Linked DNA regions of Homo sapiens: all the other regions are linked to region 2. Evidence: fine-mapped expression QTL. A gene starts in region 2. Each other region holds a variant in brackets. All regions are shown on one strand. Distances are from middle to middle. Region 1 has its middle 8.4 kb from the start of CCR9. Region 2 holds the start of LZTFL1 (leucine zipper transcription factor like 1). Region 3 holds the start of LOC124909374 (a long non-coding RNA gene).

Region 1 (2,766 bases), 36 kb before region 2:
TACTCCTGGCAACCACTGACCTTTTTACTGTCTCCAGTTTTTCTTTTCCGGAATGCCGTATTTGTTGGAATCATACAGTATATAGCCTTTTCAGATGGGCTTCTCTCACTTACTGATATGGATTTAAGGCTCCTCCATGTCTTTTCATGGCTTGCTAGCTCATTTCTTTTTAGTGTTGAATAACATAAACTATTGTCTGGATGTGTCACAGTTTATTTATCCATTCACCTGCTGAAGGACATCTTGGTTCCTTCCAGGTTTGGGCAATTATGAATAAAGTTGCCGTGAACATCTGTGTGCAGATCTTTGTGTGGCCATAAGTTTCAGCTCATTTGGGTACATACTGAGAAGCACGATTGCTAGATCATACGGTGAGAGTATGTTTAGTTTTGTAAGAAGCTGCCAAACTGTCTTCCAAAGTGGCTGTACCTTTTTGCATTCCCACCAGCAATAAGAGTTCCTGATGCTCCATATCATTACCAGCATTTGGTGCTATGTGTTTAGGGCCTGGGCTATTCTAATAGGTGTGTGGCTTTAATCTGAAGTTCCCTAATGACCTATGATGTCGAATGTATTTTCATACGCTTATTTCCCATCTGCATATCTTCTTCAGTGAAGTATCTCGAACTCCTGACCTCGTGATCTGCCCGCCTCAGCCTCCCAAAGTGCTGGGATTACAGGCGTGAGCCACTGCACCTGGCCCAGTGAAGTATCTCTTTAGGTCTTTTGCCTGTTTTTTAATTGGGTTGCTTATTTTCTTATTGTTGAGTTTTAAGAGTTCTTTGTATATTATGGATAACATTCCTTTATCAGATGTGTCTTTTGCAAATACTTTCTCCCAGTCTGGGGCTTGTCTTCTCCTTCTCTTAACAGTGTCTTTCATAGAGGGGCTTTTTTTTTTTTTTACTTGAGGGCCTTTGTGACCCTAAAAATCAGAACTTTACATGTTTAGTTTTTTAAATAAGAAATTACATTAGAAATGGGCCCCATCCCCCAGCCT[C/T]ACCCTGCCCCACTTTGTCCATAGCGCCAACCCCTGCCCTGTCCCTGGCCCTATAGTATATTAACACTTGATCATTTTTTCAAAAGCTGAAAGTTCAGTGGCTAGTTTTTGAAAAGTCAGAAAATTTCCACAGCATCAAAATAGCTACATGAAAATAGCCTCAGTTTCTAAATGGCCACATCAAAACAATCACATCAAAAGGTCAGGCCCCTGCAAGGGAGACCCAGAGGAAAGCTTCAGGCCTCGGGCTGGTGCTGGCCATAGTTAATAATAATGTTTTGCATATTCCAAAATTGCTGAAAGAATAGATTTTTAAACATTCTCACCACAAGAAAAATGAGTAGGTGAGGTGAGGAAAATACTAATTAGCTTAATTTAATCTTTCCACCATGTAGATACATCACATTGTACCCCATAAATAAAATTATTATTTGTCAGTTAAAAACTAGTAAATGGGCTGGGCGCGGTGGCTCATGCCTGTAATCCCAACACTTTGGGAGGCTGAGGCGGGTGGATCATTTGAGGCCAAGAGTTTGAGACCAGCCTGGTCAACATGGTGAAACACTGTCTCTACTAAAAATACAAAAATTAGCCAGGCATAGTGGCAGGCGCCTGTAATTCCAGCTACTCAGGAGGCTGAGGTGAGAGAATTGCTTGAACCTGGGAGGCAGAGGTTGCAGTGCGCCAAGATCAAGCCACTGCACTCCAGCCTGGGCAACAAAGAGCTAGACTCTGTCTCAGGAAAAAAAAAAAAAAAAACTAATAAATGAAATAAATTATGCTTTAAAACAAAGACCCCATCACAGGACTCAGATTACTCATGGAGTTTCACCTTAGAAATAACAGCCCAATTTTCAGTATTAACCATATTTGGAAAAAATTTACCAAAGAAAAACCAAAACAATATCTAGCAGCCTTCCCAAACAGAGTTCTGTGGGCAGGTGTCCAGCAAAAGGAGGTGCTTTGTGGCCAGGCGCAGTGGTTTACGCCTGTAAACCCAACACTTTGGGGGGCCGAGGCAGGCGGATCACCTGAGGTCAGGAGTTCGAGACCAGCCCGACCAACATGGTGAAATCCCATCTCTACTAAAAATGCAAAAATTAGCCAGGCGTGGTGGCGTGTGCCTGTAGTCCCAGCTACTTGGGAGGCTGAGGCAGGAGAATTGCTTGAACCTGGGAGGCGGAGGTTGTGGTGAGCCAAGCTGGCACCATTGCACTCCAGCCTGGGCAACAAGAGCAAAACTCTGTCTCCAAAAAAAAAAAAAAAAAGAGATGCTTGTGAAAAAGGTGAAGCAGCACTCACAGGTTCTGAGAAGCCCTACTGGAAAGAGGTCTGTTTAGTATCTTTTAAACTTGGAGTTTATTTTTCAATAGTTTCACGATTTTATTCGCTATATCTTGGGCTGCAGGAGTTGGGATCCCTTCCTACTTTTCTCTTCCTCTGATATGCATTGAGGAAGCCTTCCCTTGCCCTATGTTTGAGATGACCTAAGATAGAGACAGCTGTTGTCTCGGCTTCCATCCCTGCTGTCTTGTGTCCAGGAGGCTTTGAAGAGAGCCCGGAGGAAGGCTGGGGGAATAGTTACCCTTCCACTCCCCAGTCCTGTGACTAACCCAGCCAGGTCCAGCCTTCCTTTCCATCTCAAAGATTTAGCTCATTTCTCTTTTCATTTTAAGGTTTCTACCATCTACCAAATTTCTTGAACTTTTCACCACCCTGCACCTCCAGGAATGGACACAGGTGAACTAAGCCAGGATCACAGGCTT
Region 2 (2,766 bases):
TTCATGAGCCAAATTCATCACTTTTGAGACTAAAATTCATGTTCAGATTTGCTGACACTATTTAGACAGCTTATGTAACAACACTCAACTCTGTTGGGTAGATTGGCTAATGGTGATTAACCTCCTTGGTATAGAAGATTTTAGATTAAAGCAGAATTTTAAATTACAATAACTAGCTGATGGAGTTTTGCAGAACAAATTTTAAAATCCCCAAGCCACAAATGTAATATTTGCATTATACACACGCTCCTTTCATTCCCTTGAATTGATAACACTTCGCAATCACAAGATTTGGCCTGGGAGAAAATAAACGAGCTTTTCAGCAGTGCAAGCTGATGACCAACTTTGTTTACTGATCAGTCATAAAAGTTTTTATGAACTTCATCTCGCACCCACAACACCTTGTAAAGTGACCCTCTCACTATGTGAACACAACGAATGTCTACAGAGGAAAGAACCACGTATTATGAGGATTAACTACTGGAATGGAATGTGTCTATTAATAGCTCATAGTAGGCACTAAATAATGGCAACCAAATTCAACAACACTCACTAAACAGAAATGGGGAGGTGGGATGGTAAAGGGGAAGTTTAACTGAGCTTGGAAGGGGTTAATATTCAGGGTTGAGAGAATCTGCCCTTAGGAATCTTTCAAGAAGACAGGGATCCTGCCCAAATGCCATTGCAGTGCCAAGGGTAGGGAGCCTAGCCAAAGCTGAAGTTGGGCATACCCACGCCACTGCCTTCAGGCCATCATTCCGTGCATTGGAATGCTCCAGGTGACACACAGGAGAACCTTGTTTACTGTTCTTGACCCAAGGCTTGAGATCCTTCTGTGGGCAAATGCCTGCACATCACCTCTGTATCATGTGAGTGAAGGACTCTGAGTCCCTGGTATTTGCAATAATCGATCTCATCCTACACTTGTCCTTCCAAGCCAGTGTTTCTAAGAGTGGTCCTGATCTGTGATCACTCCTGGAACATCGGTTAAAAAGTGCAGATCCCAAGGACCCAAGCTAGACTTGTGAATCAGAATTTCTGGAGATAAGGCCCAGGAATTTGTTCAACAAGCTTCCATAGTAGTTCCAGGCATATGGAACCTTTTGAAATTCACTGCTCTCGGAGAAAACCCATGCTTTTTGCATTTTTTTTAAATGGAAAAATGTTGCTAGAGACTTTTAGCTGGAAATATAAGAGAAGATAATAACAACACAGTAATAATAATGGGCGGAGTCATGGGGAGGGGTCGTTTGAAGCTCTATTTGAGAACCTGCTGGCATTGGTGTTGTTGGCCTGTCTCAGCCACCCTGATGCTCAGGTAGGAACTCCTGAAAAAAAAAAATGTCTGGGCCGCGCCCTATGAGACCATTGAAAGGTCTGGGATGTCCATTCATCCTTGGGGTCACCTATGCCACAGGAAGTTCTGGACAAGAACTTCCCAACAATCCATAAGCGGACGCCACGAGGCGCGAAGCGCGTTGGTGGCCACACGCAACTCCAGGCAGCCCAACCCTCCCGCTACCTTCTGCAACTGCAGTCAGCTCCCAAAAGTGAACTGGCACAAAAAGGTGGGACTTCCGGCCCTGGAAGCCAATGCGCATGTGGCAGTCAACCGGTTACGCAATACTTCCTGTCGCGTGATCCTGAGGACCAATGAAAATGCATAATTGCAGTCCACGTGCCTCGGTTTCCGTTAGCAACCAGAGGCTTCTAAACAACCTACCCTCCTTCCCCATTTTCTGTGGTCCAACTACCCTCGGCGATCCCAGGCTTGGCGGGGCACCGCCTGGCCTCTCCCGTTCCTTTAGGCTGCCGCCGCTGCCTGCCGCCATGGTGAGTAACCGACCCTCAGGCGCCGCACCGCGCACAGGAGAGAGCGCGGCCGGGGCTGGAGACACTGAGCGGGTGGGCCCGGAATGATTACGTGGCCTCGTTGGGTCTGGCCGCACCTCAGCCTCCCTGAGAAGGGGAGCTGCGCCGGGCGCGAGAGATTCGGTTAACCGCAGCCCAAGCCCTTCTGGGGTAATCCTGGGTGAAGCCTTTTCCCAGCAGCCCAGCTCCGCCGCATCGCTTCGTTTCTCTCCTGCCTGCGGGGGCTGGAGCCAAGGCACAACTCTTAGGTGGCAGGTGAGGAGAGATAGAGGAAACTGCTGCCGGCCTAAGGTGCACGGCAGGGTTCTTAACTCTATTTCAAGAAGCTCCAAGTTTACGCACACACACACATTAACACATACGCAGGGTTCTCACTCAGTTTCAGGAAGCTCTAAGGTTTACACAGACACACGCGCGCGCGCGGTAACCAGAGGAGCAGGGAGAACGAATCCAGCTTTCTGTGTGATTGAAATCCAACTTTCTGATGTGGAGGTGACTTTAAGAATCCCAGCACCCCGTATTACAGCTGAGGAATTTGGGTGACATTTCCTTTGTTTTGGCTTGCTCAAAAAATATCATTAATCCCTCCAGCGAATATAGCATGCCATCTTAAATACCAGTCATACTTAGAACAGTGCACAGCACTGAAATGTTCAGGAAAACGGATGAAACCAGGGTTGAGAGCACCACCTGAAATAGCTACTGAAATACTTCAGCAACCAGAATTTCTATTTAGTCCACACTGTGTTCCAAGCGCTGTCTGGGAGCTGAGAAGACACCTGTGAGCTAAACAGATTGCTCCCTCCCCTTCTTGAGTTTAGAGCCTCTCCACTCATTCTCTTGATTTCCCTAAAATATCAGGAGAACACGTTGAAAACAAATCACAAAAAAATT
Region 3 (2,766 bases), 23 kb before region 2:
TATTAAGCATGTATTACTTTTTTGTAGATTCATTGAGTTATGATTAGCGCACTATAAACTACATGTTTAAAGTATGCAATTGGATAAATCTTGCTGTAGTACACACCGGATCAATCATTAGCACAATGAAGGTGGTGAACATATCCATCACCCCAAAAGTGTCCTTGGACCCATTTGTTCTTCCTTCCTCCCACCACGCCACCACCCCTCGCCACATTCAACCACCGATCTGCTTTCTGTCACTATAGTTTGGTTTGCATTTCTAGAATTTTATATAAATTGTAATACATAGCAAATACTCTTTTGTCTGGCTTCTTTCACTCAGCATCATTTTGAGATGCATTCACGTTGTCATGTGTACCAATAGTTGTTTCCTATTATTGTGGAATAGTATTCGATTACATGGCCTATACCAGTTTGTTATCCATTCATTGGTTTGTAGACATTTGGTTGCCTCTGATTTTCGGTTATTACAGACAACGCTGTTATAAACGCTCAAGTATTTGCAGGAACATATATTTCTTTCTCTCTTGGGTAAACACTCAGGAGTGAAATGGCTGGGTCATATGATAACTCTATGTTTAACTTTTTGAGGAACTGCCAAACTGTTTTCAAATGACTGTATCATTTTTACATTTCTACCAGAAGTGTATGAATTCATCGTTCCCTCTCTTAAAATTACATAAGAACTAAATGTTTACCTCCTGTTATAAAAAGAAAATCCAAAAACTTCAGAAATATAGAGTAAGAAAAGTGAACGTTCCCTTTTATTCCATCCCTTTCCTAGTTCGTCATACATATTTATCATTAAAAGTTTGGTGTGTGTTCATCTTTTCTTTGCAAGAGTCTGTGCATGTGTGTGCATGTGCACGTGTTTGCATGTGGAAGCATGTAGTGCGTGTAAGTGAGATTTTGTGAGCTCTGTTGCTCTAACTCTGGTTTCACTCACTGAACAATGAAGCTTGGAGGTCGTTCCTCATCAGTGCATGTAAACCTCAATCTTTTGAATTGTTGCTGAGTATCCTACTTCAATAAGCAGAGGGAAGAGGTGTTTTAAAATGTGGTTAGAATTCTGTTTACCCTTCCTCTGAAAGAGGCAGGTCTCTTCAACATTTTCTACTCATGTGACAATTAGAGAAGCTCCTTCTTCTCCTCAGGAAAGGCTGCCTGTGGGGAAGGATTGCATTTCTTTCGGTGGATCTGGGTCTTCTGGGAGCAGCACAGGCATGATCACCCTTCTGGAGAGTGATAGAACGGTCAGTGGAAATGTAATCGATGGCCACAAGGTGTGACAGCTCTGCCATCACATTCGGTTTATGCTTGTTTCACGTTCCTCAGAGCAGAATTGCCTTTCCAGGCCCACCATTTGTTCTGGTACTTGGTGGTGAGGAAGCTCACTTTAAGTGTAGTCATTCTGAGAAGGGCAAAAGGGCTTCAACTCTTCAACTTTCAGCTCTGGAAATGAGTAAAA[C/T]TGGGAGTTTCTTTTTATCATGTTAGAAAATTTACCACATTGGCTGAATGTGGTGAGAAAACCTACTCCCTTGTTAAAACAGACAATAATGCAGCACTCACTTGGTCAGCTAAACAGTTTTTTACTGTCTCCTCATGTGTGTTTTTTTCTCTCTTATATTCTTTTAATAATTAATGATACTAGGACTACATTAAATGGTACTTATTTATCCCTCTCTCAGCAATAACCTGGGGGCTAAATCTTTTACACTTATTAATACATAAAATTAGGACTATATTGTAATAAAGTTGCATATTCTGCACTGAACATTGGCATAAATGTTTTCATGTCATTAAATATTAACCAAATATTAAATCCACATCTTAATTGTTAATGACTTCATAATATTTCAGATATGGACATACCATAATTTATAACAGTTGCCCTGTGGTTGATTTTTACTAGTCGATGAAGATTTTGAGTAGCAATAAGTGAAGAAAAGTTATAAAAATTCTTCATTATGACAAGTGGAAATTAGGTTCTAGTAGCAATATTAAAATTAAATCAGGTATCACGTATTAAAATTTTGTTATCTTCCTATGATAATGCCTTCCTCATTATTTTGAACTAATATGCTACTCTTTTTTACTCTTTACTCTCAAACTTTAGAAAATGTTTCACAAAACTTTTACTCAGTAATTTGATAGCAATTTATAATTACACATTACCTGCTAGTCTCTGACAAGTATGTTGGTTAAATGTCTACTTTTGTTCAACCTTTCCACAGGGGACTTGAACATCACAGTCAGTCTCCCACATAGTGTCCAGCTGTGTGTTATGTTAGAGATATCATGCATGACATTGCCCCCAAAATACATTTCTTAAAAAAAGAACACTTTCCTGCTTGACAAACAACAACATTATCACACCTAAAATTAATAATCATTCTTTAATATCATCTAATAGCCATTATATTATTCAAATTCACCAAATGTTTCCCTGAATGTCCTTCCCAGCTTCTTTGTCCAAACGAGGAACCAATCCTGGACCACACATTGCACCTGGCTTTTATGTCCTCTCTCTATCTTTTAATCCAGCCTCCAGTCTCTTCATGGGTAGCTTCTTATTGCAGCTGCTTGGCCAGTGGCCGATAGAGGCCCCCTACATTGCTTGCCAGTGGTGTCATTTAGCTTGTTCCTCTCTCCCTTGTATTTCCTGGAAGTTACATCTACATATTGATTAGACCCAAGTTAAACATCTTTGGCTAGACTGCGTCACAGGGGATGCTGTGACATCGGAATTCATGACCCCAGGAG

Evidence for each region. PIP is the estimated chance that this variant, and not a neighbour inherited with it, causes the effect. A credible set is the group of variants that fine-mapping cannot tell apart.
Region 1: its variant is the best candidate, but not a certain one, in a credible set for the expression of LZTFL1 in whole blood (TOPMed, PIP 0.62).
Region 3: its variant is the best candidate, but not a certain one, in a credible set for the expression of LZTFL1 in whole blood (TOPMed, PIP 0.59).

What each region holds. Positions count from the first base shown.
Region 1 is chr3:45,876,735-45,879,500 of GRCh38, reverse strand. It overlaps a transcript of LZTFL1 not described here. Among named protein-coding and RNA genes, the nearest start is that of CCR9, 8.4 kb to the left of the region's middle. The variant C/T (reference allele first, on the strand shown) is at 1,001.
Region 2 is chr3:45,841,056-45,843,821 of GRCh38, reverse strand. It overlaps LZTFL1 (leucine zipper transcription factor like 1), which reads left to right and starts at 1,703. Exons shown (of 10, transcript NM_020347.4): 1 at 1,703-1,833. The coding sequence starts at 1,831.
Region 3 is chr3:45,863,570-45,866,335 of GRCh38, reverse strand. It overlaps LOC124909374 (a long non-coding RNA gene), which reads right to left and starts at 1,382. Exons shown (of 2, transcript XR_007095900.1): 1 at 1,081-1,382. It also overlaps a transcript of LZTFL1 not described here. The variant C/T (reference allele first, on the strand shown) is at 1,472.